Regions from separate parts of the Homo sapiens genome. Here region 1 is linked to region 2. The links come from fine-mapping of genetic effects on gene expression. Tissue or cell type: whole blood. Region 2 holds a variant in brackets; the other region holds the start of a gene. Each region is shown on its reference strand, or each on the opposite one.

The links. PIP is the estimated chance that this variant, and not a neighbour inherited with it, causes the effect.
Region 1: ANKUB1 starts here. The variant in region 2 is the best candidate, but not a certain one, in a credible set for the expression of ANKUB1 in whole blood (TOPMed, PIP 0.60).

What each region holds. Positions count from the first base shown.
Region 1 is chr3:149,791,114-149,794,169 of GRCh38, reverse strand. It overlaps ANKUB1 (ankyrin repeat and ubiquitin domain containing 1), which reads left to right and starts at 1,616. Exons shown (of 6, transcript NM_001144960.3): 1 at 1,616-1,893. The coding sequence starts at 1,804. RefSeq lists an enhancer at 2,730-3,056.
Region 2 is chr7:50,335,037-50,337,536 of GRCh38, reverse strand. The region is part of intron 3 of IKZF1 (IKAROS family zinc finger 1); the gene reads right to left. Among named protein-coding and RNA genes, the nearest start is that of IKZF1, 32 kb to the right of the region's middle. The variant A/G (reference allele first, on the strand shown) is at 1,062.

The sequences.
Region 1 (3,056 bases), not on the chromosome of region 2:
TTTTACATTGATTTTTCTGACTCTTCATGTGCCTGTACCATCCTGTTTTAATTACTGTAGCCTTATATTAAATTCTAACATCTAGTAGGTGACTGCCCCCTCATTACTCTTCTTTTCCAGAGTTTTTCCAGCTATCCTTGCCTGTTTTCTCTACATGAATTTTAGAACCATCTTGCTTACATAAACAAAAAAAATCTTGCTTGTATTTTTATTGAGATAATATTAATTTATAGATAAATTTAGGAAGAATTGATGACTTTAAATAATTTTGAACCTTCCATCCAAGGTTATGATATACCTGCCACTTGTTCAGCCCTTTTTTATGTTTATTGATTGTATTTTATGTTTATGTTATACGGCTCTTACACATTTCTTGTTAAGATCTTTCTTTCTTTCTTTCTTTCTTTCTTTCTTTCTTTCTTTCTTTCTTTCTCTTTCTTTCTTTCTTTTTTTTTTTTTTTTTTTTTGAGACAGAGTCTCACTCTGTTGCCCAGGCTGGAGTGCAGTGGTGTGATCTCAGCTCACTGCAACCTCTGCCTCCAGGGTTCAAGTGATTCTTGTGCCTCAGCCACCAGAGTAGCTGGGATTACAGGCATGTGCCACCACACCTGGCTAATTTTTGTATTTTTAGTAGAGACAAGGTTTCACCATGTTGGCCAGGCTGGTCTCGAACTCCTGACCTCAAGTGATCTGCCCAACTTGGCCTCCCAAAGTGCTGGGATTACAGGCGTGAGCCACCGCACCCAGCCAAGTTTATTCTTAATACATTATCTTTCCTTTTATAAATGGAGTATTTTCTTCTATTATGTTGAAGAGACAGATTCTTGCTATGTTCCCTGGGCTGCAAAGCAGTGGCTATTCGCAGGTGCAATCACAACGTATTACACCCCCAAACTTCTGGGCTCAAACTATCCTCCCATCTCAGCCTCCTGAGTAGGTGGGATAGCAGGCATGTGCCACCATGTTCAGCTTATTTGCTCGCTTATTGAGCGGGTTTGAAATATTTTCCACCAACACTAAGTGGGGGTTGAAGGAGATAACAATGGGAAATTGTTCTAAATAACATAAAGGCAAGGATTAAAGAAAATACCAACTATATTGTGTTGCTACTCAGCAGATTCTATGACACAGAAATCAGAAAAGAAAGCCACAGAATGATTTGCCTACACATTCATCTCCCTGGTGCAAGTGGGTATTGTTCTGTACCCTGTGGCAGGATTATAAATACTGCCAGAGAACAAGTACACAAAGTTGTTATGGAAACCAGAATGTTTCAGCTCAAGAGTTATTTACAGAGAACTTTCAGGATTATCACATTCAATAAAATCAACTCTTGTTTTGCTTCACCCTGTGCTAGTGCATCCCAATCAAATATCTATTTTTAAGGGTTCTTCAATCAGCTGTACTTATGTAAATAAGAATTCAGGAGTCAGTTGATGGGGACCACATCACAAAAGTGTAATTTATGAGTAGCATTTTTGTATCACATGCTTGAAGCTTGTCCATACTTGCCTCAACCATTGTCAAGTTTGCTGGTTTCCGTAATATAGGAATAAGGTGGCTATTGACTACTGCCTTCCGCAGATAAATATTTCCTCCAAAGTAGCTGGTGTCTGTGTTGCCTGATACTGTGGCACTGTGGGACTAGGCTCTTCACATTCTACAACTTACCTTTGAGGCTAGACAGTGACAGCTGCCTCTGGCTATCATTTTTGTCCTTAATTGTGAACCGGAATTTTTCTAGCCATCCAGGAGAATCTTTGAAAAAGTTGGATATTTTTTGTTTGAAAAGGTAATTGTACAATGAGGATTTTCATCGCCTTTGAAGGATCTTTTGAACCGTTTGATGTTTCAGCAGATGAAACTGTGGAGGTTGTCAAGCTGATGATAAAGGTATGTACTTCGTTCCCAAACCACCAAAATGTATATTAATTTTAACAATGCAGTGCATTTAAAAATGTACAAAGGGTAGAGATGCTATTGGGTACATTTTCAGCAAACAGGGAACGAAAACTATTTGAAAATACTATTATTTGCTTACACAATAGATTTATAAGAAGATAGTAACTCTGGTAGTGTTGGACAAGAAAGCAAAAAGAGCCAGTCAATTATCAAGAAAAAAAAAAAGTCTGACTTCTTTTTAGGGAATGTGTGGGTTGTGCATAGGCCAGATAATATTATTGCAATTCTTCATAAAAGGACCAAAGCAAGACACCAACTTCAGGCTATATACGTGGGACATGCCAGTCATCAGATAAATGTCTTATTTGGTGAGCAAACAACTACAAAGAACAGAAGATTTTGGAAGCAGAGAGGACTTTAGAGAACTTGTGAGCTATGGCTTCATTTTGCATTCAGAAAAAACTGAAGCTCTGAGAGGTTGACTATCTTACCTAGGATCACAGAGCCAGAATAAGAAATAACTTGGGTATAGTATCTTCCTTATAAATTTCATATAAATGTTCACTCTAAAATAAAAAATTAAGCAAAATATTTAGTTTCTGATCATCAAATATTTAACTTGGAGATGGTCATTCCTATTTGCTAAGCGGCATTTACTGAACCATAGTTACATGATATTCAGTAGATTATTATGATGATTGAAATCTAAATCTTGTAACACAAGGGATCTTAACCTCTATGTTTTATTAACCCCTTTGGAAGTCTGGTGATGTCTATAGACTGCTTCTCAGAATGTCTTTAAATGCATAAAATAAAACAGATATGATAGAAATGAAATTTGTTATATTGAAATACATTTTCCAATATTAAAAAGCAAATGTATGATATAGTGACATGTGGACTTCCTAATTAACACATTAACTAACAAGTTCTAGCAGCTCATCTAATAACTATTATTTTCAAAATACAGATCAGTAGAAATAATATTTTGAAATATTTGCAACAACTATAATGTGATATGAAAACATCTGTGACTTCTATTGGTGTCAGTCACAGGTACAGCGACTACTCCTACTTTAATTTGCTGCCTACATGTATAGTTGAAAGAAAATCTCAATTTCATTTAGAGTTAATAAAATAAAGATGTAGTTTCT
Region 2 (2,500 bases):
ACGAGTGGTGACGTTGCTGCTATAAGGCAGGGCAAGGAGCAACAGTGCTGAGAACGCTATCTTAGGGCATGTGTCCAGGAAGACCTCTCTGTGTGGAGACCACTGCACAGAGCCCTGAGGGAAGGGAGAAGAGCGCCAAGAGGAAACCTAGGGGATAGTCCAGGCCCAGGCCCAGCTCATAGGTGACTCACGCCGGCCTACCCTGGGGCTGCTAGTTAGATTTTAATCCTTTCTATTCTGCTAGCTCCCACTTACTGGACTTCAATCACATTTAAACATTCTCCTAAAAAGACTACCCTGTAAATACCATCCCCTAGTCCTGTGACCCCCGACCCCAACCAGCTCCTTGTCTTCTTTCTTCCCTTGGTTCCTGATGCCTGACAGCCCACAGCTGCTGCCTCCTCTCCTGTGCCGCTCCCGGTCCCTCTCACATGGTTGGTTTTGCCCCAATCCTACCGAGCCGCTTGTGGGAAACCCACCGCCAACCCCCAGACACCTCTTTCTAGGGCATTATCCTGTCCCCAGCAACTCCTCTCGCCATGTTTCTTTCTAGAAATTTTACCCGAATCACACAACTCACTCTGTCTCCTTCTTTGCTCCTCTCTTAGACAATTAAAGGCATTTACTCCCCAGGGCCCCTGTGGTCCTGCTGTTTTGTTGGCTGTCCCTCCTGAGCTGATAGTGTCCCACAGATGGAACTTGCCCTATGACTTACATCCCTACCTTCCAGACTGTTCCGTGGCTAGACACCATCCCTTGGTCTCATGCGAACCCCTACTCTGGGTACAGTTCCCATTGCATTCAGCAGAATCACTGTGGCCCCAGTCACCGAAGTGGACAATGCAGCCAACGGATGGAACCGCCTCAAAGGGGCAAACACCACGGGGCTGCTGAGATGCCCTTCTCTGCCCTCTGAGACGCCCCTCCCTGCCTTTCTTCCCCTCCTGCACCAAAGGCCTCCTGGCCTCTCGCCACCGCCTGTCCCAAGGGCGAGCTATCTGACAGGCCCCCTGAAGGGCTATTCCCAGGTCAGCAGGTTTGAGGGTTCCCTTTCCAGCACC[A/G]CACCCTTTATTCCTCAGCCTCAGAGCGAGTGCGGGCCTCCTGTGCCTCTGAGCCTGCAACCCGCCCCACTCCTGCCACCTCCACCCCTTCCTAAAGAAGGGGACAGCCGAGATGTGACCCATGGTCCCCACGCACGCCCCTTCACCAGCACATGCGTGCCTGTGGCAAAATGACTCATCCCCTCCCTCTGCACCCTCCCCCTGCACCCTCCCCCTGCCCCCGCCGGGGCCAGGCAGGGCTCCTCCTCCCCCAGTGCTTCCAGCTGTGGCAACCACATGGCGTTTGCCAACTGAGTCTTCTCCGGGGACCCAGCCTGGCCACGGGCTGCACCCTGTGTTTTATCACTGAGGAACTGTAAGCTTTTTGTAGGGGTCAGTGTGTCAATGCTTCTCCCTAAAGCCACCTGCTTAACAGGAATGTCAGACATGGAGCAGGCCAAAATGCAGATGATGATGATATCAGTGCAGCTGCTCTGGACAGCCCTCTATGCTGTGCCCTGCTGGGTCAGGCTTCACAGACATGACAGCCAGGATCGGGTGAGGGGGCGCCCTCACCTCACAATGAAGGAACAGCAGAGCCACCTGCCAGGGCCAACAGCTAGGAATCAATAGAGCCAGGCCTACCTACCCACATGGCCTGCTCCCAGGCACAGCAAACACCCCAGTGGCTCAGCTGCCACATGCATGTGCACACATACACCACAGACACACCACACATCCCATACACACATACACACCACACATCCCATAAACATATACACAGCACACATCCCATAAACATATACACACCACATACCACGCTTCCCATACACACATACACACCATACATCCCATACACACCACACATCCCATACACATATAACACACATACACACTACACATCCCATACACATACAACACACATACACACCACACACCACACATCCCATACACACATACACACTATGCACCACACACCACACATCCCATACACACATACACACCACACATACACACTACACATCCCATACACACATACACACCACACACACACCACACATCCCATACACACATACACACCACACATACACACCACACATCCCATACACACATACACACCACACACCACACATCCCACACACACATACACAACACACCTCCCATACACACATACACACCACATACCACACATCCCATACACATACACAACACATATACACACCACACATCTCACACACAACACATATACACACCACACATCTCACACACATACACACCATACATCCCATATACATATCCACACCACACACCACACATCCCATACACATCATATATCCCATACACATACACATCACACATACATACCACACATCCCATAAACATATACACACCACACACCATATATCCCATACACACCACACATCCCATGCACACATGCACACCACACACACTACACATAC